Homo sapiens: one gene and its partners. The protein of the gene in region 2 interacts with the protein of the main gene of each other region in a biochemical or structural test. Each region holds a gene or a part of one and is shown on either strand. Other genes may lie near its edges.

The links.
Region 1: of the proteins of SRPK1 (region 2) and VDR, one has a biochemical effect on the other in vitro, tested with the Homo sapiens proteins (one large-scale study listed by BioGRID and IntAct).
Region 3: of the proteins of SRPK1 (region 2) and FKBP3, one has a biochemical effect on the other in vitro, tested with the Homo sapiens proteins (one large-scale study listed by BioGRID and IntAct).
Region 4: of the proteins of SRPK1 (region 2) and NUDT21, one has a biochemical effect on the other in vitro, tested with the Homo sapiens proteins (one large-scale study listed by BioGRID and IntAct).
Region 5: of the proteins of SRPK1 (region 2) and RSRC2, one has a biochemical effect on the other in vitro, tested with the Homo sapiens proteins (one large-scale study listed by BioGRID and IntAct).
Region 6: of the proteins of SRPK1 (region 2) and PDGFRA, one has a biochemical effect on the other in vitro, tested with the Homo sapiens proteins (one large-scale study listed by BioGRID and IntAct).
Region 7: of the proteins of SRPK1 (region 2) and PELI2, one has a biochemical effect on the other in vitro, tested with the Homo sapiens proteins (one large-scale study listed by BioGRID and IntAct).

The regions. Positions count from the first base shown.
Region 1 is NC_000012.12:47,856,158-47,860,566, forward strand, and holds part of VDR (vitamin D3 receptor), read right to left. Parts: intron 1,532-4,409; coding exon 1,347-1,531; intron 1,093-1,346; coding exon 972-1,092; intron 1-971.
Region 2 is NC_000006.12:35,913,690-35,918,098, reverse strand, and holds part of SRPK1 (SRSF protein kinase 1), read left to right. Parts: intron 1-4,409. UniProt on the Homo sapiens protein: Serine/arginine-rich protein-specific kinase which specifically phosphorylates its substrates at serine residues located in regions rich in arginine/serine dipeptides, known as RS domains and is involved in the phosphorylation of SR splicing factors and the regulation of splicing.
Region 3 is NC_000014.9:45,123,872-45,128,280, forward strand, and holds part of FKBP3 (peptidyl-prolyl cis-trans isomerase FKBP3), read right to left. Parts: intron 1-4,409. UniProt on the Homo sapiens protein: FK506- and rapamycin-binding proteins (FKBPs) constitute a family of receptors for the two immunosuppressants which inhibit T-cell proliferation by arresting two distinct cytoplasmic signal transmission pathways. PPIases accelerate the folding of proteins.
Region 4 is NC_000016.10:56,448,533-56,452,772, forward strand, and holds the start of NUDT21 (cleavage and polyadenylation specificity factor subunit 5), read right to left. Parts: upstream 2,801-4,240; 5' UTR 2,671-2,800; coding exon 2,555-2,670; intron 1-2,554. Other genes in the region: prolyl 3-hydroxylase OGFOD1, read left to right, coding at 3,081-3,234. UniProt on the Homo sapiens protein: Component of the cleavage factor Im (CFIm) complex that functions as an activator of the pre-mRNA 3'-end cleavage and polyadenylation processing required for the maturation of pre-mRNA into functional mRNAs.
Region 5 is NC_000012.12:122,506,066-122,510,465, reverse strand, and holds part of RSRC2 (arginine/serine-rich coiled-coil protein 2), read left to right. Parts: intron 1-2,015; coding exon of another isoform or gene 2,016-2,018; coding exon 2,019-2,248; intron 2,249-3,542; coding exon 3,543-3,632; intron 3,633-4,400.
Region 6 is NC_000004.12:54,266,828-54,271,236, reverse strand, and holds part of PDGFRA (platelet-derived growth factor receptor alpha isoform 1 precursor), read right to left. Parts: intron 3,949-4,409; coding exon 3,777-3,948; intron 3,686-3,776; coding exon 3,496-3,685; intron 605-3,495; coding exon 489-604; intron 1-488. UniProt on the Homo sapiens protein: Tyrosine-protein kinase that acts as a cell-surface receptor for PDGFA, PDGFB and PDGFC and plays an essential role in the regulation of embryonic development, cell proliferation, survival and chemotaxis.
Region 7 is NC_000014.9:56,298,714-56,302,429, reverse strand, and holds the end of PELI2 (E3 ubiquitin-protein ligase pellino homolog 2), read right to left. Parts: 3' UTR 906-3,716; downstream 1-905. UniProt on the Homo sapiens protein: E3 ubiquitin ligase catalyzing the covalent attachment of ubiquitin moieties onto substrate proteins. Involved in the TLR and IL-1 signaling pathways via interaction with the complex containing IRAK kinases and TRAF6.

The DNA of each region.
Region 1 (4,409 bases), on a different chromosome or scaffold from region 2:
ATAATTTTCACCTACAAACCAGAAACAAAAATGTTTAAATATTGATGCCAGTATTTATAAAGATGCAGGAAATTAGGCAATGCCTATGAGGGCTGGGGTGCTAAAGGAGGTGCACATTACTGAAGGTACTCTAGAAAGCTATTTGACATTAGTCAAATAATTGTGTGTACTCTTTGACCAGTAGTCACACTTCCTGGAATTCATTGTAAGGGAAAATTTCCGATAAGTGTAAATATTTGGCTACAAGTATACTGTTTTCTTATTAAAATGCTGAGAAATAATCCAGATATCCAATGGTAGGGGATTAGGTACATTATTGTATTCCAGAATACTATGCAGCCCTTAAAAATTATATTCTGGATGCGTACTAACTGGTATGGAAAAACAATGCCATATAAAAAAAAGCAAGTCATCAGATTGTATACAGCACAATTTCTTTTCTAAATATACATATGTGTTTTTTTTAAAAAAAAAAAAAAAAAGAAAGGAAGGAAAGCATGATGCCTCCCAGACTCTCAGCTGAGCTGGAGGGGACAGGTCCTCCAGGGCCAGAGTGGTCCCCAGAGCTCAAGTGGAAGGTGGACCTCAATAGGACCAACACGTTCACCTTCCCACTCCAAATTTCACCTTCTGAAGGGCCCAGGATTAAAATATCACGTAAAGGAAGCAGGTCACCTCCACGGAGGGGGCCATGGGCTGAAGCCTGGCTTAGAGGAAACAGCATGGGCCCGGGAGGCTGATGCTACACAGCTGGAATCCCAGCTTGGCCTCTTCCCCAGTGTGGGCCCTTGGGTAAGTCACCCCTTTCTGTAACAGAGGGGCTGTTGTGAAGACGCTGCATAGCGCACAGTATTTATGTAAGTTTCCATTAGGGAGCCTTCCACCTCCTTCCATCCAGCAGCCCCAGGGCAGGTGCGGTGGACTCCTCGCCCCCGCTCCCTTACTCTATGGAGGACTGAAGTCCTGCTTACCTGAAGAGGTGATACAGTGATCTGAGCAGGAGGAGGAGGAGTCCCCAGAGAAGCTGGGAGTGTGTCTGGAGTTGGGCCTGGAAGGATGGCTCCCTCCACCATCATTCACACGAACTGGAGGCTGGAAGGGAAAGATGGGGTCTCAGACCCACATTTTGGGGTTGCCTTCCTACCTTGGCCCTGATCTCTGATAGGAATGGCTTTGAGGAAGGTCTACAGGAAGGCGAAGCCTCCCAGTGCCAGGGGCAGAGCAGCCTCCGTCCCTACCCCAGTTCTGTTCAGGATGTCCCCTGCCCTCTGTCCCTACTCCCTGGGCCCTGGCTCCACTAGTGCTTCTCCTCTGGACCGGCTCATCCTCCCAGCAGGCAGACATACCCGGAACTGGCAGAAGTCGGAGTAGGTGGGGTCGTAGGTCTTATGGTGGGCGTCCAGCAGTATGGCAATGATGCGCTGCTGCTCCTCAGACAGCTTGGGCCGCAGACTGTCCTTCAAGGCCTCCTCCTCCTTCCGCTTCAGGATCATCTCCCGCTTCCTCTGCACTTCCTCATCTGTCAGAATGACTGTGGGGTGGGAAGGGGAGTCAGGAGGGCTGGCCAGCAGCTCCTCCAGGAAACCTTCCTCCTGCGGTTGGGGGTAAAGGTCCAAGATAGGAGGGGCTTTAACACTCGGGGCTCCCTCGGGGGTCCTCCTGCCACGGAGACTCCCACTCCACTGTGTGAAGAAAAATTGGGTTTGCTATGGTGAAAAGGAAGGCACATGCAAGAAGAAGAAAAAGAGGATTTGAGAGGGGGGATGATCTGGGCTTTAGGGAGTCGGGGTTCTCAAGAACAAGTTGTGGGACCTTGGGCAAACTCTCTGGGCTTTTGTTCTTTTGTTTGTAAAATGAGAGATTTGGACCATGTAAGTTCTTCCAAGGTTCCTTTCTTGTACCTTCCTCCATAAAGTGTGTGTGTGTGTGTCTGTGTGTGTTGACATGCAGGTGGGGGAAGTAATAATACCTGCCTCAAAGGATCAACTGATTTGAGAACTGGATGCATGCCTGGCCCAGAGCAGATGCTCACTAAATGTTAGTTCTCTTCTCTTCCCTACCCTGATGTTCCATGATCCTGAAGAAGATATCAGGGTGAAGAGAGGATGCCAGAGCTCTCATAGCGCTGGAAGTGAGATGTGGAGAGGACTCCTCTATGTGGCTGTCTCCACATCCAGGTTTCCAGACATGGGACTGTGGAATATAGAAAGACTAGACCTCTTTGGTTCTCTGCAAAACCACCCCTCCTCCAGCATGTACAGCCTTGACATTTCTGTCCATGGAAGTTTTCAAGTCCTCTTGAAGGCCCCAAAGGGTGAGGCCTTGCAGCTCTAATCTTAGAAGTTCTCTCCAGCCACTAATCAGGGTGTGGGGCCATAGAGAGCCCCACCACCACCTGCAGGCTTCTGCCTGCCTCCCTGTGCTGGGGCAGCTGTGGGGGTGGAGGGGATGCTGGGAGCAAAGGTGCCTGGCACGGCGGCTGGGCAAACAGACCTCCTGGCTGTGGCTTGCTGAGTGCTGACGGCAGGAGTGGGCACCAGGGCCTTTGGCCTGTAGCTACTTGCTTGGTGCTGCTGCTGCCAGGGCATCTGCCCACAGAACTGGGGAGTTTCACAAGAGCAGAGAAAGGAACCAGAAGCCCAGGGTGGGTGAGTTCCAGGCTTTGAGAAAGGTCCATTGGCCCAGGCCCTCAGGTAGGGGGAGGACGAGAGAAGTTGCTGTGGGGTGAGGAAGAGCCTATGCTGGGAGGGAGTGGACAGCCAATGCCACAGGCATGGCAGGAAAGCGAGCGCTACTGCAAGAGATGGTGCTTCCCTCCACAGGGAGCCTGGGAGTAGACCACACCCAGGTGACTGACTCACCTGCCCAAACAGCTGCCAACTCTCCTCCCACAGTGGGTGTCTGCACAGACCCTACCAGGTCAGGCAGGGTGGGAGAGGAAGGGGCAGGGAGCATCCAGGGAAGGCAATGGGGGTAAGCCCTCGCTTGGGGAGCCCAAGATTAGGTGTCTTGTCTTTCCTGCTCACCTGGGGACCAGAGTTAGGGAGACCTGTTTCTGCCAGCCACACCATGGTGTCTACAGGCACGTAGCTCAGCCTGACTGGACTTTGCTAACTTTCCAGTGATTCTGTGATGCCATTCTCCTGCCCAGATACTTTTCTCGGCCCCTACTGATGACCACGTCCAAACTAAAGTTGGCCTCTTCCTAACTTTCAGACTTCATGTCTTAGTGCTTCTGGACACAGCCTCTGTTCTGGGCATGCTGGCATTGCTGCTGGCCTGGGAACATGACCTGCTCATGCTCGCCCCTGCATTTCCAGTTGTGCTAGGTGCCCGTCCAGCTGGGTTTTCTCTCCCCCAAACCTGTATGAGTTCTACCAGTTCTTCAGTGCCTACATCATAGCCATCTTTTTCCATGAAGCATTTCTTGATTGCCCTGATCTGCATCAAGCCTTGTTTTTTTCTGCTGAGCCTCATTTCCTATGCCTGCTACATATTTAGTCTTTCCCACACACATTGACACCCAATTATCTTCTGCTCTGTAAGACTCATGGTTAGCACAGTTTTCAATTCATTACCTATAGACGGAGCCCAAGAAGTTCAAGGTCTCTTTCTCTAGATTACAAGTTACTTAAGGGCAGGGTCCATGTCTTACAATTCTTTCTTTTCTCTCCCTTCCTTTCCCTTCCTTCCTTCCTTCCTTCCTTCTTTCCTTCCTTCCTTCCTTCCTTCCTTCCTTCCTTCCTTCCTTCCTTCCTTCTTTCTTTTTCTTTCTTTCTTTCTTTCTTTCTTTCTTTCTTTCTTTCTTTCTTTCTTTCTTTCTTTCACAGACTCTCGCTCTATTATCCAGGCTGGAGTGCAGTGGCACCACCTCGGCTCACTGCAACCTCCACCTCCCGGGTTCTAAGCGATTCTCCTGCCTCAGGCTACAGAGTACCTGGGCTTATAGGCACATGCCACCATGCCTGGCCAATTTTTTTGTATTTTTAGTAGAGATGGGGTTTCACCATGTTGGCCAGGCTGGTCTCAAACTCCTGACCTCAGGTGATCTGCCCGCCTTGGCCTCCCAAAGTGCTGGGATTACAGGCGTGAGCTACCATGCCCGGCCTTTGTCTTACAATTCTTATATTTCCCCCATAAAGGCTAGACCGGAGGGGCTACCTGGCCGTGGTGTCTGCTCAATAGTCTGACACCAAATATCAAATGCATCCACACAGATTACACCAACTGTGTGCAAATCATTTTCCTGGTTCAGGAAAGGCTAGTGAGTACTCTAGTGCTGCTTGTCTCCTGCAATGTAGTGAATGGCACCTGGCACACCAGAGAGCTGAGAAAGCTGACCTCTTTTATTGAAACAATTGTTATGGAAAGATTTTCAAGACAGAAAACCTTGTAACGGAACACTTTTA
Region 2 (4,409 bases):
CAAGCCTCAACTAAGGTAACTTGACTCTGTTCCATGACTTCTGACTGCACTCCTGATGACTTCCATTTACTTTGCTAAGGCAAGCTGCTAGTTACAGGAGGTGAGTCAGGAAGAAGATTTGAGGAAGAAGCATGCCATAGAGTTTGGTCTTTGGAGATAGATGTGGTTTTGAATTCTGATTTTGCTACTTTTTAGCAATCTGACCTTAGACAAGTTAGTTAAGGAAACAGTCTTATGTATATATCCTGACTGGCAGTTCAGTCATAGTGAAAACTGATCAGGACCTAAAGATATAAAAACAAAGCGTTTAAATGAAAATTTTAGAAAGTTTTGGAACTGTTACAGTAAATAGCATCCTTAGTAATTTAGTCGTGTTGTGTCACAGGCAGAAGGGATTTTCAGTCCCCTGGTACTGCAGATCTTAAACCCAGGGTCTTGAAGCTGGTGACAGAAGAACCAAAACTTGGAATTCAGGGTCCCTTTCCAGCTCTGTGTTTGTTAGAGTGGATTTCCTTTGGGTTCTTTTCACTGTGCTGGAGTATTTGACTTTGGGATTTTAAATTTTCTTATTTAGACAATTCTTCATTTTACTTTTGTGGACGCTGTGCTTTTATTTACTAACATTAACTAGTTGGTGATGATCTCCATTTTACTTTACAGATAAGAGAATTGAGGTTTGTCAGATTACTCCCCTAGAAAATTGCAAAGCTGGGATTTGAACCCAGGTCTGACATACCCAAAGCCCTGGCTACCAATCATGTGTTTCTAAGTGACAGTGCTTTTGGTGTGTCTTACAACAGGTAAGGTAGAAGCTGAGTTGAAAGAGGCTTCTGAATGAGAGACCTCTGGATGCTTGGGGGTTTGGGTGCCCTTTCATGACATACTGTCCTGTGTCTATGAAACAGCACAATCATCTATCTCCCTCTGAACATTTGTTTTCAGTGTTTATACCAATAGCTGTGAGCCTTTATTTGTTTGTCATAAGCTTTTATAATTTAACAGTGTGTGTCTGTTTTTGTTTTGTTTTGTTTTGTTTTTTGAGACAGAGTCTCACTCTGTCACCCGGGCTGGAGTGCAGTGGCGCATTCTCAGCTCACTGCAACCTCTGCCTCCCGGGCTCAAGCCATTCTCCTGCCTCAGCCTCCCAAGTAGCTGAGATTACAAGCACCTGCCACCACGCCCGGCTAATTTTTGTATTTTTCGGGGTAGAGACAGGGTTTCACCATGTTGGCCAGGCTGGTCTCAAACTCGACCTCGAGTGATCCACCTGCCTTGGCCTCTCATAGTGCTGGTATTACAGGTGTGAGCTACCGTGCCTGACCTATATGTCTGTTTTTGAAGTTGTTTCTATGGAACATAATTCCAGAATGGATTTCATACTTACTGATTTTATTACTTACCTTAGGAAGCTGGTTTGGACAGTAATTTTCACTTTATTTGCAGTTAAATAATTATGGATTTAGTATACATTTGGTAGTAAAATTAATTCAGCTCTAACACTGATTTGTGGAGTCATTTGGGAGATATATTGAAAATTTACTTGAATTTGGCCACAAATTAAAAAAAAAATTTACAAGAGAAAATACTTAAATATCTAACATTTTTATTCAGTAGGAAGTAGAGCCAGTAAATTTGAAACAATTTAAAAAATGAAATAGTATTTGATGCTTTTTACACTTAGCAGTGCACCTTGGAAATTGGTTCTATATTCCATATAGTGCAGCCTTACTATTTTTTTTAGGGTCTGCCTTTTTCACTGAGTCTTAGAAATAGTTCCATGTCAGGACAGAAAGAGAACCTCATCTAGCATTCCATTAAGTTGATATGCCATAATTTAATTAATTAATTAATTAATTTATTTATTTATTTATTTGAGGCAGAGTCTTCGCTCTTGTCATCCAGTCTGGAGTGCAGTGGTGAGATCTCAGCTCACTGCAACCTCAGCCTCCTGGGTTCAAGCGATTCTCCTGTCTCAGTTTCTCGAGTAGCTGGGATTACAGGCACATACCACTGTGTCCAGCCAACCATAATTTATTTTAATTTTTATTAATAAACGTGTGTGTGTGTGTGTGTGTGTGTGTGTGTGTGTGTGTGTGTGTGTATATATTTTTTTTTTTTTTTGTTTTTGAGACAGAGTCTCGTTCTGTCGCCCAGGCTGGAGTTCAGTGGTGCAATCTCGGCTCTCTGCAACCTCCGCCTCCTGGGTTCAAGTGATTCTCCTGCCTCAGCCTCCAGAGTAGCTGGGACTACAGGTGTGTGCCACCACGCCCCACTAATTTTTTGTATTTTTAGTAGAGACGGGATTTCACCGTGTTAGCCAGAATGGTCTCCATCTCCTGACCTCATGATCCGCCCACCTCGGCCTCCCAAAGTGCTAGGCTTACAGGCGTGAGCCACCGCACCTGGCCTGTATATACCTTTAAAGACAAAAATGGAATCACTGGGCATACTTTTCCCTAGTTAACATTATCATGAGTATTTTTCGTGTATTAAATATTCCACTATGGGCTGTTTCCAGTTTTTCACAATTAATTCACAGCTATAGTGAATAATCTTTTGGACAAATCATTGCTTACATCAGTGATTATTTCCTTAGGATAAATACTTCGAATGGTATATACATTTAAAATATTTTTAGTTCATTTTGTCAAAATTTTGTCCAGCAAGATTTTTCTTTTTTTTTTTTTTTTTTGAGACGGTGTCTTGCTCTGTCGTCCAGGCTGGAGTGCAGTGGCGTGATCTCGGCTCACTGCAAGCTCCCCCTCCCGGGTTCATGCCATTCTCCTGCCTCAGCCTCCCGAGTAGCCGGGACTACAGGCGCCCGCCACCATGCCTGGCTAATTTTGTTTTTGCATTTTTAGTAGAGACGAGGTTTAACTGTGTTAGCCGAGATGGTCTCGATCTCCTGACGTCGCGTTCTGCCCGCCTCAGCCTCCCAAAGTGCCAGGATTACAGATGTAAGCCGCCATACCCGGCCTTCCTCCAGCAAGATTTAACAGGTTTGGCCGGGCACAGTGGCTCAAGCCTGTAATCCTGGCACTTTGGGAGGCTGAGGCAGGGGGATCACTTGAGGTCAGGAGTTCAAGACCAGCCTGGTCAATACAGTGAAACCCTGCTTCTGGAAATACAAAAATTAGCCAGGTGTGGTGGCAGGTGCCTGTAATCCCAGCCACACAGGAGGCTGAGGCAGGAGAATCGCTTGAACCCGGGAGGTGGAGATTGTAGTGAGCCAACATCGTACCACTGCACTCTAGCCTGGGCAACAAAGCAAAGTTCCGTTTCAAAAAAAAAAAAGGATTTAACTAGTTTAACTCTTATTCATTAAACAAATAGTTTTTGATCTCCCACCCTGTCCCAAGCATTGTTTTCCATATTCGGGATTCAGCAGTGAAAGAAAAACATTCCTGTCCCGTTGGCTACTATATTATTATAGTGGGAGGAAAGACAGAATAAACAATAGACATAAATAAGTAAATTAAATAGTATATTAGGTGATAGGTGGAGAAAAAAGAGAAAGATAAGTGGGGGTTGAGAAATGGAGATAAGGTTACAGTTTTAAATAGGGTGATGGAGGCCACACTGAAAAGGTGACATTTGAACAAAGACTTGGAAGAGGACTGCTCTAGGCAAAGCAGTGGAAATGGGAGTGTTCTTGTATCTCCTGTGAAGCCACCAGAACTAGGTAATATTACTTGAAAAATCTTGCCAAATCTGGTAATCTATAAAATACCTTGTTGTAATTTTGAATTTTTTGCCCATTTTTAATATTAGATTGTTGATCTTTTTCTTGATCTTAAGAACTCTTTATTAAGAATGTATCCTAGCCAGGTCTGGTGACTCAAGCCTGTAATCCCAGCACTTTGGGAGGCTGAGGCGTGTGGATCACCCAAGGTCGGGAGTTCGAGACCAGCCTGATCAACATGGAGAAACCCCTTCTCTACTAAAAATACAAAAAATTAGCCGGGCGTCATGGTGCATGCCTGTAATCCCAGCTACTTGGGAGGCTGAGGCAGGAGAATTGCTTGAACCTGGGAGGTGGAGGTTGCAGTGAGCCGAGATCGTGCCATTGCACTCCAGCCTGGGCGACAAGAGCAAAACTCCATCTCAAAAAAAAAAAAAAAAAAAAAAAGAGAAAGTATCCTTTGTTGTGCGGCAGACTTTTATTTCTCAGCTTGTTATAGGTCCTTCAGATGTCACTTATAGTGTGCTTTTTACATAAATTGATTTTTAAAACCGTGGCAAATTTGTCTTTTCCTCTGCTTTTTCTTTTTTCTCTCTCTTTTATTTTTTTTTCTTTTTTTGAGATGGAATCTCGCTCTGTCACCCAGACTGGAGTACAGTGGCATGATCTTGGCTCACTGCAACTTCCGCCTCCTGGGTTCAAGCAATTCTCCTGCCTCAGGCTCCCG
Region 3 (4,409 bases), on a different chromosome or scaffold from region 2:
CCTCCCAAAGTGCTGGGATTACAAGCGTGAGCCACCAGGCCCAGCCCCCTCATTCTTTTAAAAGGCCCAGTTACCCCTCCACAAATCAGACTGGAGTTTAGCTCTTTCCCCTACTGTCAGTAGGCTGAATAAAATCTGTTTTCACCACTTTAATGTCCGATTGTGTTTATCTCTGACACCTTGAGTCAGTCCTCTACTCAACTGCTAGAGTGATATTAACAATTACTGCTTATAGTTTTGTGTCCAAAGGCCTAAACCATGCAGGATCTTAATCTATCCCTCCCTGAAGTTCCAGAATTCTATCAGCCTTTGAACTCTTGTCTTTTCCATGACCTTCTCAGTAGAGCAGGTGCATACAGCATAGAAATCTTTCAATCAGCTGGGCGCAGTTACTCACACCTGTAAACCCAGCACTTTGGGAGGCCCAGAAGGGTTGATCACCTGAGGTCAGGAGTTCGGGACCAACCTGGCCAACATGGTGAAACCCTCATCTCTACTAAAAATACAAAAATTAGCTGGGCATGGTGGCAGGCGCCTGAAATCCCAGCTATTTAGGGGGCTGAAGCAGGAGAATCACTTGAATCCAGGAGGCAGAGGTTGCAGTGAGCCAAAATTGTGCCACTGAATTCCAGCCTGGGTGACAAGAGTAAAACTCTGTCTTAAAAAAAAAATTATATATATATATTTTTTTTTCTTTTTTTAAGAGACAGGGTTTCAGTGTTGCTGAGGCTGGAGTGATCATACCACTGTAAAATACTGAGATATTTTACAGTAGTGTGATCACGGCTCACTTATAGGCTCTAGCAGTCCACCTGCCTCAGTCTCCCAAAGTGCTGGATTACAGGCAGGAGCCACTGTGCCTGCTTAATAATATTTCAAAAGTATAAAAATATTACTGTCTGTAAGGGAGCAATGAAAGGGAGAATGGCATGAAATACGGCTAGAAAAATACGTAGGACATGTTAGAATCTGGGTTTTTATCTTTAGGACATTAGCCAATTTAGAGTTTTAAATAAGAGAAGTTACAGAATCGGATCTGTGTTTATTTTATTTATTTATTTCTGAGACCGAGTCTCACTCTGTTGCCCAGGCTGGAGTGCAGTGGTGTGATCTCGGCTCACTGCAACCTCTGTTTCCCGAGTTCAAGCAATTCTCCTGCCTCAGCCTCCCCAGCAGCTGGGACTACAGGCATGAACCACCACACTTGGCTAATTTTTGTATTTTTAGTGCAGGTGGAGTTTCACATGTTGGCCAGGCTGGTCTCGAATTCCTGACCTCAGGTGATCTGCCTGCTTCAGCCTCCCAAAGTGTTGGGATTACAGGCGTGAGCCACAGTGCCCAGCCAGATTTGTGTTTTAAATAGATCACTGTGACTGAAATATAAAAAATGACTTGGGAAGCAAAAGTAGAAGTGGAGAGACTTGTTAGGAAAAAAGTTACTATAGTAGTTTAGGTTTAGACCAGGGTGCTAACAGTGAGGATGACAAAACATGAATGGCTTTGGGATATATTTTGGAGGCAGAATCACCAGAAGTTGGTAATAACTACATATGAAGCAGTTATCAAAGATGAAGTTATCAAATTTTTCGTTTGAGTACTTTTATACTGACTTCTAATTGCTAAGTGTGAGTTTCTGTCGTAACTTATATTTTCTTTCCTGTACAATACTCATTCATACCATGAAAATTTTCCTCAATGCTATTTAATATATAATAGACAATAAATATATTGACAATGACTGATTTAAAATCCCATAAGAGCTATTAGACAAGTCTTTATATTAAAATAAAGGTAGAAATAAATAATACAAATGTGCTTAGGAATGTATGCAGTTGTGTATGTATACAGCAAAGTCTCACATGGTAAAAATTCCAGAGGAAGCAATGAGCCCAGGAGCTGGGTCTTAAAGGGAGCACAGAAGTGACAAATAGGGATAGTAAAAGGACACTCTAAGGAAGAAATAAAATATGGAGGTAGGAAAGGGCATGATGTAGTAGACAATGAGCAGACATTTGTGGTCAAAGAAAAAAAATTTTTTTTTTTTTTGAGACAAGGTCTTACTCTGCCACCTAGGCAGTGCAGTGGCACACAATCTTGTCTCACTACAATCTCTGGCTCCCAGGCTCAAAGGATCCTCCCTGCTCAGCCTCCTGAGTAGTTGGGACTACAGGCACACACCACCACGCCTGGCTACTTTTTTGGTAGAGACAGGTTTCGCCATGTTGCCCAGGCTGGTCTTGAACTCCTGGGCTCAAGTGATCCACCTTCCTTGGCCTCCCAAAGTGCTGGGATAATAGGCGTGAGCCACTGCACCTGGCCAATAACATGTCTATACAGGCCGGGCACAGTGGCTCACGCCTGTAATCCCAGCACTTTGGGAGGCCGAGGTGGGTGGATCACGAGGTCAGGAATTCGACAATAGCCTGACCAACATGGTGAAACCCTGTCTCTACTAAAAATACAAAAATTAACCGGGCGTTGTGGTGTGCGCCTGTAATCCCAGCTACTCAGGAGGCTAAGGCAGGAGAACTGCTTGAACCCGGGAGGCGGAGGTTGCAGTGAGCCGAGATCACACCACTGCATTCCAGCCTAGGCAACAGAGCGTGACCCCGTCTCAAAAAACAAAGAAAAAAAAAGAATACGTCTATAGAAACATGGAATATGGAGCTTAGCAGCAGCCACATTTTGGAAGTTTTGAATGCCAAGAATAAGAAATTTGGATATATATTGAAGACCAGTGGTGACCAATAAAAATGGGAGTCACAAATGTAATTTTGAGTTGTCTAATAGCTGCACTTAAAAATGTAAAAAGAAAGAGATGAAGTATGTCTATGCCAGGCAGTGGTATGCCTGTAGTCCCAGTTATTCTGAGTATTCTGAGGCAGGAGGATCACTGGAGCCCACGAGTTTGAGTCCAGCCTGGGCAACACAGCATGACCCTGTCTCTTTTTTTCTTTTTTTTGAGACTGAGTCTCCTTCTATTGCCCAGGCTGGAGTGCAGTGGCGCAATCTTGGCTCCCTGCAACCTCTGCCTCCTGGGTTCAAGTGATTCTCCTGCCTCAGTCTCCCATGTGGCTGGAATTACAGATGCATGCCACCATGCCCAGCTAATTTTTGTATTTTTAGTAGAGACGGGGTTTCACCATGTTGGTCTCAAACTCCTGACCTCAAGTGATCTGCTCCTCTTGGCCTCCCAAAGTGCTGGGATTACAGGCACCAGCCACTGTACCTGACTGACCCTGTCTTTTTTTTTTTTTTTGAGACAGAGTTTCACTCTTGTTGCCCAGGCTGGAGTACAATGGTGCGATCTCAGCTCACTGCAACCTCCGCCTCTGGGGTTCAGGCGATTCTCCCACCTCAACCTTCCGAGTAGCTGGGATTACAGGTGTGCACCACCACATCTGGCTAATTTTTTGTATTTTTAGTAGAGACAGGGTTTAACCATGTTGGCCAGGCTGGTCTCGAACTCCCAACCTCAGGTGATCCGCCTGCCTCGGCCTCCCAAAGTGCTGGGATTACAGGCATGAGCCACCATGCCTGGCCTCCCAACCGACCCTGTCTTAAAAAAATAAAATAAAAAATTTTTAAATGAAAAATTTTCTTATTTAAACTAAAACATCCCAAATACCATCATTTCAATAAGTAATCAATATAAAAAATACTGAGATATTTTACATTCTTTTTTAAAAAAGAAACGTCTAAATTACACCTTTGAAACTGAGTATATATTTTATTCTTAAAGCACATTTCAGTTCAAAGTAGCTAAAGCACTCTGTAGCCACATATTGTTAGTAACTACCATACTGAACGGGGCAATTCTAGACAACACTCAATTACTGAAGATTTTTCAGCAGGGTGTGGTTTGCAAAGTATTGTTTTAGAAATCTTATTAGAATACCCATTTTGTTGCTGACTGGATAAAGAAAGAGAAGGGAGGCAAGAAATGAACAACGTTTTTAACATTCTGGGTATGAGGCCTTGCTTCGAATGCTTGAAAATGGAAAAGGAATGAACGTTTAAAATAAAAGGAAGATGTTTGAGAGCATTAGTCCTGAAGGAGACATGAGAAAGAAAAAGGGACGCAAAGATTCAGAGAAATTTTAAGCTCAGAAGAAGGGAATGGCAATGGCTAGACATTCACATTTTGGCACTACAGAACACAGGAGCATATAATGAGAAGGGAGTCCAGGGGCAGTGGCTCACGCCTGTAATCCCAACACTTTGGAAGGCCTAGGTGGGCGGATAACTTGAGGTCAGGAGTTCAAGACCAGCCCAGCCAACATGGAGAAACTGCGTCTCTATTAAAAATACAAAAATCAGCTGGGCATGGTGGCGCCTGCCTGGAGTCCCAGCTACTGGGGAGGCTGAGGCAGGAGAATCACTTGAACCCAGGAGGGGGAGGTTGCTGT
Region 4 (4,240 bases), on a different chromosome or scaffold from region 2:
TTTCTCTTTTTGTCCTCTAAACCTATTTACTAGCCTTTGGCATTTATTCTATTCAGTCTCCTTATTGTTTCCTTCTCCTCATCTGAATCTTCTACCCACCATATCTAATCGAAAACTCTCTTCCTTTACCAATAATTTAAAATATGGCTCAAACTGTTAAAGACAGTTTTCATCTTGCCTAATAAGGATCAAATTTTTCTTTAAAGATAGTTAAAAAATCCATACTTATATGTTGTAAGCCCTTAATTAAAGCCTTACAGCAAGAAGCCTTTGAGTACGAATTTAGGCCACATTTGCCCATCCAAGGTATCTATTCTACCAAAAGCCCTTGACATTAATAGTCAACATTATTGTATCTACCCCACTCAGCCATTCTTGAAAGGGGAAAAAATCAAGGTTGCCAAAACTTTAAAAATTACTTTAATTCCAGAAGCCAAGTTCTAGGCATATGAAAAAGCTCTAAAATAATTAAAATATACCATTCCAGGATGCTTTAAAAATTTAAAGAACATCCCCGGTAGATCCAATGCTAAATCTAAAACCATCATCCATAGCAGCAGCAGATATGCTACATAGAACGACGTGCCAAGCAATTTTTTAAAACGCTTTACATATATTAACATTTAATTCTGACAACCTGAGTTAGAAAGAATTAAGGATAGCCATTACACATCTCTGTTGCAAGAGCCAGCTCCAATATATCAGTAAGGAGATGTGAAGATGAAATGTCAGAATTTTCACCTGTGAAATCAGAGTGCCAGCCCAGACATACATATTGTTCTCATCATACTGTGAGCTTCATAAAGCAGGGGCTACACCTTACTTCCTCACCACTGTATATCCAGTATTGTGCACAGTGCCTGGTACAAAGTAGGCATTCATGCAATATTTCCTAAAATAAAATATACTGGGGGAGAGGGCATTTGTTTTCAACTTAATGTTAACTCAGGTGAACTTAAGTTCACAACACAATTATTATTTCTGAATATTTGTATTTACACAGGAGAGGAAATGTACTGTAAATCAACCCATAATTTTAATAGAGCGAAGATTAAAATATCTTACTGAAAGCTAACTATTTTGCCAATTCTACAAAATGGTTGGATGCAAATTAATTCAGTAATCAAGACAAAACAAGAAAAGACTGTGGGTTTTAGTTCTAATAACCACCGAAAGTAATCCAGAAGCTGTGCTTTCACACTTTTAAAAAGGATAACATTTGCCTTTACCATTTGATGGATTTTTTCTTAATTTTTAAAAAAATTTTTGTAGAGACAGCCTATGTTGCCCAGACTGATCTCCAACTCCTGGCCTCAAGTGATCCTCCCACCTCAGCCTCCCAAGGTGCTGGGAGTACAGTCGTGAGCCGCCACTCCTGAGAACTTTTATACACACAACTATCAACTAATTCCAGATTTTATAAACCCAGCATTTCCATTATCTAAATTTCCAAGCCAACACGTTTTGCAAAATAAAACAATGTTAACCATCTTTTCAACTTCAAATCACTTTTGGTTGGGGGACGGGGAGACAATGTCCGTTTATTTTAATATGAAACAGAGAAACACCTAAACTGCCTTACGAAAACATCAATACCACCAAATCCTTGCACTTGTACCCTGACTGGCATAAACTGGCCACTTTCCTCCATCCTGGCATAAAATGGAGGCACCGCGTTGCCTCGAAAACAAATCCTCAGAAACGATTTTAAAAAGCATTACTGACAATTTCTTGATTAAGACACCCCAAACGCCAATTACCTGCTACAGCGAGTCTGCTTCTGAGAATGACCTTGAAATGCAATGGTTTGAAGTGTTGAAACAGAAAGGTGTTGAAAATAAAACACAGCCCACAATGGGTTTTCTGGTACAAACATTCTGGTTCCCTCCAGTCTGAAAGCCCAACCATAGCAGCATCCTTACTCCCAAGGAGGGGCCTACTTGTGGTGCCTGGGATGCCGGCATTGAGACATCAGACGACGCGAAGGCATAAGGCATGGGGCAGGGCAGACAGCCCTGAGCACATGAATAAAATGTGTTGTATTCAAAAACTGAAGTATTAAGTGGCACCTAAAAGGAAGAAAACTAGACCTAGGCATTACAGCTAGATCTCGAAACCTTACTGTCAGAGTGAAATCTGCAAAAATGATACTAGGTTATACCATTCGTATCACATCAACACTCACAAAGCAATACCATGTACGTGATGCGAAAGCATAAACAATTCACTGGAAGGATTAAAAAAACACACATTTTGAAGTCGGTTACCTCTGGAGAGGTGGGGAAAGGATGAGTTAAAAGCAAACTCCGTTTTTCCCCATTATGACCGAATACATAGGATGGGAACAAGCCTTCCTTTCAGAAAAGGACTCTAACCCTGGAGGCTGGAGGATGAGAAAGGGGCCTGAGAGAGGGAGGAAGGCGCGCATCCGCCAGCGGGAGTTGGAGGCGGGGAGGTGCAGAGGCGTGAAGCGCGCCGAAAAGCCGGGGGCGCGTCGGAGAGTCTATAGGAGCTTTCACGAGAGAAATGCCCGCCAAGGCCGCGCCGCACTTACAGGTTGATGGTGCGCTCCAGGGTGAGGGGCTTCGTCTGCTGGATGTACTTGTTGCCGAACTGAGTGACCCCCCGGGGCCAGCCGGTCTGCGAGCGATTGGGCGGTACCACAGACATGCTGGCGAGCTCCGGCGCTGACGGCGAGCAGAAAGTGGCAGGCAGGGTAGACTTTCCCCGTGCGGGAAGCGGTTATCTGCAATCCCCTCAGCGGCTACTGCCCGCCATTAACAGGACAGCGCAAGAGGAGGCGTAGGCACGCCGGAAGTGAACCCGGAGCCTCTGGCGGCAGGAAGTAGAGGGGCGGTGGCCTGCCAGACCGAGCTCCAGTGGGCCAATTGCTGGTGGGATGGCTGCAATAGCTGGAGCTCCCATTGGTAAACCGGGTATAGGTTCCGCCTTCTCTTACTTTGGTGCTTCCCATTGGGTAGGGCCGGGAAACACGATAAAGGGGACATGCCGGGAGTTGCAGTACCCTCAGGAAGGTAGCGTCTTGATCTGCGTGGCGTGGTTCTGTGCCTTGGGAAGAGATGAATGGGAAGCGGCCAGCGGAGCCCGGCCCAGCCCGGGTGGGAAAAAAGGGAAAGAAGGAGGTGATGGCGGAGTTTTCGGACGCTGTTACGGAAGAAACCTTGAAAAAGCAGGTGGCTGAGGCCTGGAGCCGCAGGACGCCGTTCAGTCACGGTAACCGGGTGCTCTCAGGGAGGGGCCGCCACGCAGAGGTCTAGGGATCTCTGAAAAAGCCCTGGGACTCGCGCCCAGCCTTGGGCAGCGGGGCCGCAAGGGAAGAGGCTCTTAGAGGACTTTGGCCACCTCCTACTCTCCTGCCTCGGCTGCTGCTCCCTTTCACTCCAAATTCGGTTGCAATTTAGAAACGTGAGAAGAGGGAGAAATGGAGGCCGGAGAGTTTTGGGAAGCAGAGGGTATGCAAGAGATAGTTGCATTCTGGAGTCAAAGATTACTGAGTTAGAATCCTCTCCCCTGATTGGGCGTCGCCAGGCAATGGAATTAACCTTATTAAACTTCAGTTGCTTCCTAAGTAAAATGGGATAGTTCATAATATTTACCTCGGAAAGTCGGTGAATGGGAGCGACACACTAATGCTTGCAGGCTTCAGTAAATGTTTCCCTGAGTAAGGCCCAATACACATGTGGACAAATACAGGAGTGGCTGATGTCATTTCTCCTGCAAGGGCATTGCTCAGCTGTCCCAGGAGAGTCTAGCCAGGGCATTTGTCGTGAGCTGCCAGCTTGACTCCCTAGTGTACTCGTCTCTACGCGCCTGTAGTTTGACTCCATGATGTATGAAAATAAACGCGCTTTGACCAAGGAAAGGCGCCTACGTTGAACGATTCCAGCCTCAGCTTTAAATATCACCTTAGGTGTTCAGAGCTCTGCTTCATGCGCCAGGCATCCCCTTCTAGAGTTTGCCGTAATTTTTCTTTCCGTTGTCAAGTGCTTTGAAGAGGTGAGTCCTGGGTAGGCTGGATGCCTATAGAAAACGATAGCTTAGTGTTTAAGTGCAGGCTCTGTACTCTCAGTTTCTTCATCTGTAGAATGGGGAGAGTGATAATGTCTCCCTCAGAGCTGTTAAAAAGATTGAATGAGATCATGGGCCTGGCACCTGGTAGGTGGTGCTGATGATTACAGGATGGTGATCTAGCCAGCCGGAAGCAGTGGGTAAATGTTGG
Region 5 (4,400 bases), on a different chromosome or scaffold from region 2:
CCTCTGCCTCTTGGATTTAAGCGATTCTCCGCCTCAGCCTCCCCTGTAGCTGGGACTACAGGTGTGCACCACCACATCTAGCTAATTTTTGTATTTTTAGTAGAGACGGGGTTTCACCGTGTTGAACCAGGATGGTGTCGATCTCTTGACCTGGTGATCGTCCTTCTTGGCCTCCCGAAGTGCTGGGATTACAGGCATGAGCCACCACGCCCGGCCCCAGATGTCTTTTACGATTTTGGAAATGTAGTTTATGCAAGAAAGTGAACTGATCTGAAATATGTATTTCTCTTTCAAGAAATCAAGTTTTTATGCGTAACAAACATTGCAGATTTCAAAAATTATCAGGCCTGGCTCAGTGACTCACTTCTGTAATCCCAGCACTTTGGGAGGCCAAGGCAGGTGGGTCACCTGAGGTCAGTAGTTCAAGACCAGCCTGGCCAACATGGCAAAACCCCATCTCTGCTAAAAATACAAAAATTAGCCAGGCGTGGTTGTGTGTGCCTATAGTCCCAGCTACTCAGGAGGCTTGAACTCGGGAGGTAGAGGTTGCAGTGAGCCAACATCACGCCATTGCACTCTAGCCTGGGTGACAGAGTGAGACCCTGTCTCACGAAAAAGAAAAAAACAAAAACAAAAAACAAAAAATTATCACGAAGAGCTTACTGTTGATTTGGTATGAAATTTAATCTGGAAGATGGTTTTTTGTTGTTTTTTACATTTTTGGTAAACAGTGGCACTTATTTGAAACTCTAAAAGTTTACAAATAGCCATTTTATTTTTACTACATCATTACTCTCTTTGGTAACTCTGGTTCCCATAATGTTGGTAATTTAAGTACTTTTTAAGGTTATATTCTGGACTGACAAAAATAGGTAATCAGAGGTGTCTTTTTTTACAGAGGACTGCTCAATCACAGTGGAAATACCAGGGCTTTATTGAACTTGGACTTAGCATAATACCTGCATACTGTTGTTGTTTTTGGGTTTTTTTTTGTTTTTGTTTTTGTTTTTTTTTTTGAGACGGAGGCTCATACTGTCGCCTGTGCTGGAGTACAGTGGCACAATCCTGACTCACAACAACCTCCACCTCTCGGGTTCAAGTGATTCTCCTGCCTCAGCCTCCTGAGTACCTGGGCTTATAGGCGCCTGCCACCACGCCTGGCTAATTTTTTTGTAGTTTTTATTTGAGACGGGGTTTCACTATGTTGGCCAGGCTGGTCTCGAACTCCTGACCTTGTGATCCGCCTGTCTTGGCCTCCTAAAGTGCTGGGATTACAGACGTGAGCCACTGCGCCCAGCCTTAGCTGCATACTGTTTTTCAAGTATATGATGTGAGCATCAAATGAAATGTCCATGAGAACATTTCATAAATTTAAAAAAATACAAGGTTTTATTGTTTTGTAATTATACCTTAGAAACACTATAGTTCATCTCCACTGAAATCATACTTTCTTACTATTTGCAGAATTCTCTATCCTCAAAGTAAATAAATGGGTTTTTTTTTTGTTTTGATACGGAGTTTCGCTCTTGTTGCCCAGGCTGGAGTGCAGTGGCATGATCTCGACTCACTGCAACCTTCGCCTTTTGGGTTCAAGTGATTCTCCTGCGTCAGCCTCCCGAGTAGCTGAGATTACGGGCATGTACCACCACGCCCGGCTAATTTTGTATTTTTGGTAGAGACGGGGTTTCTCCATGTTGGTCAGGCTGGTCTCGAACTCCCAACCTCAGGTGATCCGCCCACCTCAGCCTCCCAAAGTGCTGGGATTACAGGCGTGAGCCACTGCGCCTTGCAATAAATGGTTTATATATCAAGGGTTTATGTAGAAATATGTCCGTTGATGAACACAATAAATGTTTGCTAAAAACTTGTGAGCTAATACTCAGTCATTTCCTTGGATTTGGTGAAAATCCTGCCTTTTTGCACATTCATAGCTTTTTATAAATCGTTCGTTAATGTAAATCAGGAGGTTTATGTTTTAAAATCGTTTTAAAATCCATTTTTGTATTCTCTTCAAGCAGCTGCAGCTACTGGAGGTTCTGTTCTCAATGTTGCTGCCCTGTTGGCATCAGGAACACAAGTAACACCTCAGATAGCCATGGCAGCTCAGATGGCAGCCCTGCAAGCTAAAGCTTTGGCAGAGACAGGAATAGCTGTTCCTAGCTACTATAACCCAGCCGCTGTTAATCCAATGAAATTTGCTGAACAAGAGAAAAAAAGGAAAATGCTTTGGCAGGGCAAGAAAGAAGGGGTAAGTTCTCTTATTCTGCTTTTCTGTCGTTTATTCCTAATTAGTAATTGCTTAGAAAAACAAATTTGGGTTGAAAAATATTACTTTCGGCTTAACTTTGTAAGAACCTGGGGTGGCCAGACGCGGGTGGCTTATGCCTTTAATCCCAGCACTTTGGGATGCCAAGTGAGCGGATCAGTTGAGGTAAGGAGTCCAAGACCAGCCTGGCCAACATGGCAAAACCCTGTCTCTACTGAAAAGAAGATAAAAATCAGCTGGGTGTGGTGGCACACACCTGTAATCCCAGGTGCTTGGGAGGCTGAGGCAGGAGAATCGCTTGAGCCTGGGATGCAGAGCCTACATACAGTGAGCCAAGATCATGCCACTTAGCCAGGCATGGTGGTGGGCACCTGTAATCCCAGCTACTTGGGAGGCTGAAACAGGAGAATCACTTGATCCTGGGAGGCGGAGGTTGCAGTGAGTTTCCAGCGAAACTCCATCTGGAAAAAAAAAAAAAAAATCACGCCACTGCACTTCAGCCTGGGTGAGACCCTGTCTCAAAAAACTTATAATAAGCTATGATAGTCTTATTTGCCAGTTATTAATACTAAAATAAAACATAATTGATTGAAGTCAAGCTTTCAAAGAAAACTAATATTACCATAGAAGTAGTAAGGAAAAGAGGCTACTTGGTTTAGAATTTTTCATAGATTATGAGGTACTTTTTTTTTTTTGACATTATTTGCAATGACAAATGACATTAAATGCAAATGACATGCAGTCGCAAAAATTGCATGTTGAAAAAGGTCTATGACAGGAAAATAATCCATTTTTTTATTTTATTTTTATTATTTTTGAGACAGAGTCTTGCTCTTGTCACCCAGGCTGGAATGCAGTGGTGTGATCTCAGCTCACTGCAACCTCTGCCTCCCAGGTTCAAGCAATTCTCCTGCCTCAGACTCCTGAGACCCTCCTGGGTCTACAGGTGCCCACCACCATGCCAGGCTAGTTTTTTGTATTTTTAGTAGAGACGGGGTTTCACCTAGTCATCCAGGCTAGTCTCGATCCCCTGACCTCAGGTGATTTGCCCACCTCGGCCTTCCAAAGTGCTGGGATTATAGGAGTGAAGCACGGCGCCAACCTCTTGCTTGTATTTCTTTGCTTTGTGGTTTCTTAAGTCTTGAAATAATTAAACTTACATTGATTGAATGCTATCCATGGTGTTTTTTTTTTTAATTTAGACATTGTTGAGAGATTTCATGTCCTAAAAAATATTTAAATTTTACATATTTTAAAGTTCAGTGTTTGTTAACAGGACAAATCCCAATCTGCTGAAATATGGGAAAAATTGAATTTTGGAAACAAGGACCAAAATGTCAAATTTAGGAAATTGATGGGTATTAAGGTGAGTTTCACATGTGCCAGGGGATCTTTGTATTAGCTATTAGCCCTCCTGCACTGTTCTTCCCTCATTTTCTTAGTTCTGGTCTTTACTCAGGTGTCAGCGTTTTTGAGTTCTTTCCCACCACCTTTTGTGAAATAACAAGCAATCCCATTCTGAAACATTTCCATCTCCCCTACCCACTGTCCTCCCTACACACACACTTGGAGAGAGAGAGAGAGACGGGGTTTTGCTCTGCTTGCTCTGTCACTTGGGCTGGAGTACAGTGGTGCAGTCATACCTCACTGCAGCCTTAAACTTCGAGGCTCAAGCAGTCCTTCCACCTCGGCCTCTCAAAGCCCTGGATCACAGTTCTGAGCCACTGCGCCCAGCCTCCATCCCCATTTTCTACTTTACTTTCCTCTGTGGCATTTATACCCTGACATCTTCTACATATTATGTTTTTTCCAACCTACTAAACTGAAGTTAACTTTTGTTACACCCTGCTATATTCCAGACCTAGAAAGAACATTGCCTTGTCCTTTGGAGGTGTTCAATAATGAATGGAAATTAAGTTATTGAGATCAAATACATATCCCAAAAGTATATTTTTGTTTGTTTGTTTTTTGTTTTTAGTATAGACGGGGTTTCACCATGTTGGCCAGGCTAGTCTCGAAATCCTGACCTCAGGTGATCCACCCGTCTCAGCCTCCCAAAGTGCTGGGATTACAGGCGTGAGCCACACTGCACCCGGCCAAAAGTATAATTTAATAGTGTCAGCCTAGTTCACAC
Region 6 (4,409 bases), on a different chromosome or scaffold from region 2:
GGGCACTCCCTTCTGGTAAGGACCACTGTACAATGTCTATAAGGAAAACTTGTAGCAAAACTCTCCAGAACAATCTAAGGTCATCTGCTTCTCTCTTCTCAGATTGAGAAGCAGGTGCTAAGTAAGCTGGTGGAGGCCAGGTGCAGTGGCTCACACCTGTAATCCCAGTACTTTGAGAGGCCAAGGTGGGAAGATAGCTTGAACCCAGGAGACCAGCCTGAGCAACATGGCAAGACTCCATCTCTACAAAAATAAAGCTAGCTGGTGGAGCCTAGGGATTCCTCGCCTACTCTAGAGTAACCCAGAACCTCCCAGAAATACCTGAATTCATGAGTCCAGCAGAGGTATTCCCGATATGTGACATATGCAGACACTGCTTCTCCCCTAAGTGCTGCTTTTCTTCCATGACCGGGGAGAAAAGTGCCAGGCTTTCCTTGGAAGACACTCATCTACAGAGCTAGCATTATCTTTATACTCCCTTTACATACCTTGAGTTAACAGTTCAAAAGTATAGCTCTTCACAGCATCTTCATTTTGAGCTACAATAGTATAATGGCCACTGTCTTCTTCCTTAGCACGGATCAGCTTTAATTTGCTTCGATACCTTTTAAAAAAAGGATTTTGTTTCAACAAGCAGTAGCTAAGTAAGTTCCAATTGTTTAAACAATTGTACTCTTCAATTTAAGTTTTATTTTTACTGTAAAAAGTAAAGTCATCTTTTTTTCTTGTCCATATCATCTCTTCTGGAATTCTCAATATATAGTGCACACACTGAAGGTCTGGATCATACACACAATTCTTACAAGAGAAAACCAGACATTCAGAGATGAGCAATGGCCATCTCCAAGAGCTATCAGTTCAGCCACGGCCTGACTTCTGAATGAATAAACACAGCCTACCAACTTTTCTTTAAAAAAATAAAAAATAAAAACCTTTGATTTTTACCTTTTTTAAAAAATACTTGCTTCCCCTAAATATCCATCATTTAGGTGGTTCAGCCAAAAAATGGAATATCACTGGAGGATAGAATGAGGACACTTTCTATGTATTTGTATGTAGCGGTCTGCAGGATATGACAGTCCTACTTGCTTGTATTTTGCTTAAAGAAACTCTGGAAGGTTTCATAAGAACCTAATGAAACTAATGAAGATGTTTCCCTGTGGGGAGGAGGGGAGAACTGGGCAGCTGGGGACAGGAGTACAGTGAGGCTTCTTACAATGCATTCTCTTTTTGTTTGATTATTTTTCAAGCACGGGATTCTATCACCTATTAAAAAAAAGTTATAGGCTGGGTGTGATGACTCACACCTGTAATCCCAGCACTTTGGGAGGCCAAGGTAGGTGAATCACTTGAGGTCAGGAGTTCGAGACCAGCCTCACAAACATGGTGAAACCCCCATCTCTACTAAAAATACAAAAAAAAAAAAATTAGCCAGGCATGGTGGCACATGCCTGTAATCCCAGCTACTCAGGAGGCTGAAGCTGAAGAATCGCTTGAACCCAGGAGGCGGAGGTTGCAGTGAGCCGTGATCGTACCGCTGCACTCCAGCCTGGGTGACAGAGCAAGACTCCATCTCAAAAAAAAAAAAAAAAGTTAGAAAAAATATGCCTCTTCAAAAAAAAAAAATATATGTCTCTTCAAACTTTATTAAAGAGAAACTTCCCCAAAAATATTTTACATGGATTATAAATGACATCTGGTTGTGTGTGTGTGTGTGTGTGTGTGTGTGTGTATGTATGTGCATAAATATAGTATGTGCCCATTTGATTGTCCTTTATAAATCATCACAGTTGAAAAAGCAACTGGAATGGAGAAGAAAAGCATTGGTCATGGAGTGAGAAGATCTCGGGTATTATTACAATGCTCCATGCCTCAGTTTCCTTGTGTGTAAAACGTGATAATTGTACACATAGCACAGAGTCATTGTGAGAGTTAATTAAAGGAGATTGTATGTGTGAAAGCATTTCATAGGCTCCAAAACACTTTGCAAATACTGGGGCACTCAGACCTACGAAGACAGCAGGCTGGACCATACTGGGTGTGCTCCAGGACTGGATTTCCTTAAGAGAGTACCCTGGGGCACACTAGGATGCTGATTACCAAATTATCCTCTGCTGTTTGTTCTCTTCACTTCTTCGGCCAAGAAAACCACTGGTTTTCTTGCTCCAGGAAAGCCAGATCCCCCATCCTGGAGTTTTAAGCTCCAGGAAGCCAGATCCCCCATCTACCATGTTCATCTTTGTATTCACTGGCTCATAACAGGAACTAAAAAATCCACGTTGAAGCATCCTTGAATCACTAAAAGGAAAAGGCAGCTTTCCAGAACCACTCAGTTGGCGAGCCTGTCCTGCCACTGCTATGGATTATGGCTTGCAGACAGTGCTCACACACGTGTTGGAGGTGTTAGCTGTACCAGGGTTGTTACCCTATTCCTCTCTGGCTGCACAGCCTCATGGAAGTTCCTCGTGGAAAGCTGCCCTCCTTGTTGTACACCTTCATTTTGTGTCAACAGAAAGCCTTCCAGATTCAGTATCCCACTTCATTTTTCCTTTACTATTCTATAGAGGCTGTAAAATTCCATTTTCTCAGACATTGCTTCTCAATTACACGTGGAATTTAGTTCACAAAGAAGAAAGCAAATCCTGAGGTGAATGGAACTGATGAGAAAGGCTCTGTTCTTCCTCCTGAAGGCTTGAAATACAGGACTGACTTTGTCTTTCTGAGATGATTTCTGACAAAAGTATAGGGCTGGTTAGCTGGGTGCTGTGAGATGTATCTTCTGACTCTTGGGTTCTAATCACAGCTTAAAACCTTAAGAGGCCTCATGATATCATCTGATCCAATTCCTTGCCTTGAAGGACATAAGGTATTGTTTATCCTACATTGTAGATGAGGAAACTGTGGCTGAGGGGTGACTCATTCAAAACTCCACCACCAATTAAGAGATGAGAGCAATCTACCATTCTGATTAAAAGGTAGGGATCCAAGCAACTCACTGCACATCTCTCTCCTGATTAGCCAGGCTCTACTCTTCTTTCCTGTGGAGTCCTCAATTAGGGCAAATGGGTTCCAGATTAAGCCTATGACGTTAACTTTCACGTAAGGTGATGTGATAACTGCCTCATGGGTGTAATCACCATATCTGTCTACTTGCGATATGGATGATGAACATCAGGGAATATATTCAATCTATTCAATCCTGGTGAGTCCAATTTTACTTCCTTTCTTCCACCCTAGCTGAATCCAGTGACCTGTCTTTCCCCAGGGGCCAGAGCTTTTAGTTCTTTCTTCTCATCTTCTCATTAAATACTTACCAGCATACTAATACCACTTTGCAATGTTATCATTAAAGGGATGTGATTTCAAGCATCTCTTAACTCAGATTGTTACATTTTCTAGACTGACTTTGGGTCTGGGTTGTAAGACACACACAAACCTCAGTCCGCCTCTGATGCACACTAAAAAAAGGCATACTTGGGCAGAGAGTTTCTTTACCTTATTTCCTGAATCTTTTCCACATCAGTGGTGATCTCAGTGAGATTTTCAATCAGAGTCAGATTGTTTTTCAGCCAGGATATCCTGGGAGGTGGGTAGGCCCGCACCTCTACAACAAAATGTTTGACTTCATGCAGGTTGACAGCTTCCAACTGGCTGAAGGTGGGTTTGATTTCAATGAAACCTTTCTCTGTACAGGGAAGAGTTTCCATTAAATAATGATTACCACATATGGATCCCGAGCAGCATGGACAACTGACATTTTAGAAAGCGGAATGTACCATGGACAGAAATAGTGACTTTCTTCATTTCTTTGACCTCCCTGGTAGCCTGGCGGGCAGCACATTCGTAATCTCCACTGTCTTTCACCGTGGCCTCGGGGACCGTCAAAGTGTACACCAATTTGATGGATGGGACTTTGATTTCTTCCAGCATTGTGATGCCTTTGCCTTTCTACAGCAAAAGGGGAAGAAAACCGACTTTTAAAAAGCTCGCTCCTAGGAGTGAACTCTAAGATAAACTATGGACTCTGGATGATATGGATGTGTCAATGGAGGTTCAGCAGTTATAACAAATGGATGGTAGGGATGTTGACAAGGTGGGAGGCTACACATGTGTGGGTGTAGGGAACACATGGGAAATCTCTGTACCTCTCAATTTTGCTGTAAACCTAAAACTGCTCTAAAAGATAAAACCTAAAGAATAAAAGCTAGCTGCTTAGAAAATCATGAGATTTTTTATTTTGTTTTTAATTTTTTTAGAGACAGAATCTCACTCTGCTGCCCAGGCTGGAGTGCAGTGGCACAATCATGGCTCACTGCAGCCCCAACCTCCTGGGTTCAAGTGATCCTCCCACCTCAGTCTCCTGAGTAGCTGGGGCTACAGGCTCATGCCACCACACCTGGCTAATTTTT
Region 7 (3,716 bases), on a different chromosome or scaffold from region 2:
GGAGTTTCGCTCGTCGCCCATGCTGGAGTGCATGGTGCGGTCTCGGCTCACTGCAACCTCTGCCTCCAAGGTTCAAGCGATTCTCCAGCCTCAGCTTCCCAAGCAGCTGGAATTACAGGCGCCCATCACCACGCCCAATTTTTGTATTTTTAGCAGAGACGGGGTTTCACCATGCTGGCCAGGCTGGTCTTGAACTCCTGACCTCAAGTGATCTGCCTGCTTCGGCCTCCCAAAGTGCTGGGATTACAAGCGTGAGCCATTGTGCCTGGCCTTTTTTCTTTTGTTGCTTGTGTTTTTACGTTTGGTATGTCAAAAATCACTGACAAATCTAAGGTTACAAAGGTTTACATTATGTTTTCAAAGGTTTACATTATGTTTTCTTCTAAGAGTTCTATAGTTGTAGCTCTTTGACCCATTTTGATTTAATGTTTGTATGCTGTGTGAGGTGTATTCCTTGCCCAATGGAATGTAACTTACAATTATAACCAGTTGTGATTTTCTATAACACATCTCACAATTCGTGGCATCTTAGATTTGACAAAGTATGGAACACTTATCCCCTGAAATAAAAGCCTATATAAATGTGCATTTTTTTTCTGGAAATGAAAAATCTGTTTCTCTCAATAATACTAAAACTCTTTGAATATCAATGTGATGAGAACAAAATTTGTCATAAATATATACATTTTCTTATGATAGATATATTAGTTTAAGGCTTCAAGGAAGGCTTGAAGGCTTATACACAATCCTTATTATGTTGTTAAAAGTGAATGAAGACTGTCACAAGAGCAGCAATATGGCTGAAATGATCATGACAAAAATCCATTAATTCTACAAGTCAGGTTAAATTCCCCTGGAAGTTAACTTTATTTGACAGTGATGTAATGTCACGAGAAATAGTAATATAGGCACCAAGGAAATTTCTTTAATTAAAAAATGTAGGGGATTTTCAGAATCAAGGTTTAAATATGTATTGTGCAGAATATAAAACAATTAATAAACTCAACAGCTGGAGATTAACTTGGAAGTTAGAGAAGTGAAAAAAATCAGTTCTACTCGTATCAACCTACTAAATGTCCTAATGAACTCAGTGACAACCACAGAATCTGAAGACAATGGCTCACAAACAGGCTGATATCCATTTAATAGTTTTTGAAGATTTTTTCCTGTAAAATGGCTTGTATTTCCACAGGTACAATAGTGAAGAAATAAACTTTTCAATTTGACATGAAATATAAAACAACAATTTTACAAACATATTCATAAAATTTAACTGCTAATAACACAATACATGGTAAATGTGACCATCCCCTTAACTTCTAGACTATTTAATACAGAGAAGCAATCTGTCATCTCAGCTAAAAAGAAACATCTTTCCTTTCATTGAGTTTATTTTTGTTTGTTTAGAAACTGTCAAGCAAAACTGGAAAATACTTATTTTCCTTATCTTCCTCTAGGGATTCTTCATGAGGGCAAAGACTTATTTGAAAGGATGTAAGTTATACTAAAAAGAAAATACTGAACCTTTTTTTTGTGTTACTGCTTCAATGATGCTTAGATTATTTTAAAAAGATGCTGAAGTCGTCTCATTGGTCGCACAGAAGGAGGCGCATCATAACCTAAGCCACAAAGGCTAAACTACTGGGACAGAAGATTGACAGTAAAGGGATGGAGATGGATTTGGCTTAAAATCAAAGTCCTGTGGTTTGTCTATCAGAAATTCCACTGTTATGAGGCAAGGCTGCAAGAAGATAGTTTTTACCCAGCATTAACAATGGTGTAATCACACACCCTTTCAAGCACATCCAAAGAACAGAATGGCTTTAAAAAAGAAAAGAAGTGAAACAAAACCATAGAACTGCAGGTAACAATTCTACAACCTATATTACACTTCAATTAAGCAGAAAACTCTCGTAAGTGTCCACACAATACTGAGCTCCCAAATAACAGAGGTTTGAGTTTTTCCATGAAAAAAAAAAAAAAGACATTGAAGCTTTATGAACTAAAGAGTTCTCCTCAAGTTTCCCAATACAGTAAATGTAATAACTTAAAATAATTTCCCTATTGGTACTGGAAAATAAATTCTACTACAATCATGTTTATGCCAGTTTCTGACATATTTCTGCATCCAGATTCATTAGTCTCCTTAATGGAGCCCATCATTTTTCCAATGGCTTTCTCCTTTCTTTAAACCCTAACCCTGAAATTCTATAACCAGTTATATCACGTGGCTTCCCTGAGGCACAAAGGTACCAAAGTCTATAATTAACTATCGAGGAATGATAAATATGTTCTCTATTTATATTAACAGATTTTAATTCTTTTGGGCCACAGTTGGGAGAAAAAAATCCAGAAACCTTAATACTCTGCAGGGTGAACTGTAGCCCTTTTTGCTAAAAGCTGAACCAAATAAGGGAAATGTTGAGAGTTGCAGCATGCATGACCCGGCAGCACCGATTATTAATAAAAAATTCCGGACTAGAAAAATACTCAGAGTTGTACTCCATCCACTCTGAATCTTTTTTTTTGTAGTAAACGACATAAACAACTGAAAAATATTTCTATGGGAATACATCACTGGGACTTTTACTTCTGGAAAGCTACTTGCAAAAGGCATTAGAGTCAGGCCAAGACAACTAATTGGTCTGCAATTTCCTTGTGTATACACATGGGGGAGTGGGGCTAGTCCTTTAAAGTGATGGCAAGACATAAAAAAAGAAGTGACCTTGGAGAAATTACTTTTCTGAATTGCGTTTCTCCACCTTGGTGAGCTACAGAGTTCTTTATTTTCACAAACTAACTCAACTGTGAAAAAAAAAATCTCCTTAGTCAAAATTGTAAAGGGATCTTCCTACAAGTGGCCAAGAAGAGCCTGGTGTCCTTTTTGCTGATTTGCCACCTCTCTGCAGTTCCTTAGGCAGGGTGGGCGGGACCTGACTTTGGAAGCCAAAGGAAAAGATGTGGAGCCCATGGAGGGCGGTTCACTGTTACCCCTTCCAAGAGCTTGGAAATTATTTCCCAAATTTCAACTTATATTTAAGCTGAATTTACTAAAAGTCAGAAACTTTTAGTTAGACATATGCCCAACTACGGGACGTGTCCAACTTGGAAGGTAACTTCATTTTGGGGGATATGTCACGTTGCAGAATGACTAGACTTATAAACAGGACTTGAAATGGAAAATTATGATATACCTAACTCTCTGGAAAAATATCTTTTTTTCTTGGTAGGTAAAATCTGGCCTTTCTGGATGCAAGACCATTTAGCTTACAAGATGGTTTTAGGGCATCAAGAATCCTTCAACCACTTTCTAGGCATACAGCAAGAAAAGAGAACGAGTGCCTCCTTTGTCATTCTTTGGGGCCCAAAGAATTACAGGCTGAAAAGACATACTCTATCAGTGAAAGCTAATCATCAGAGACTCTGGCTAAATCAAAAGGCATTCAATATATTATTCTAGGCAAGTCCATTTTTTTCTTTCATTTTCTGTCTGCAGGTAGAGTAAGCTATACAGAATACAGCAAGCTATCTGTAAGAGGACTGTTGTCATCGATTTTCACACCATTTAAAATTTACCCAAACAAAACCAAAACCAAAAATGTCTCATCCTAAACAATGATCTCCACTGAAAAATAAAGCTATATTAAAACTGAGAGGCTGAACTTTAAACATATTACATCAAATTAAGCAGCAGCAATCAAGAGTAATATTATCGT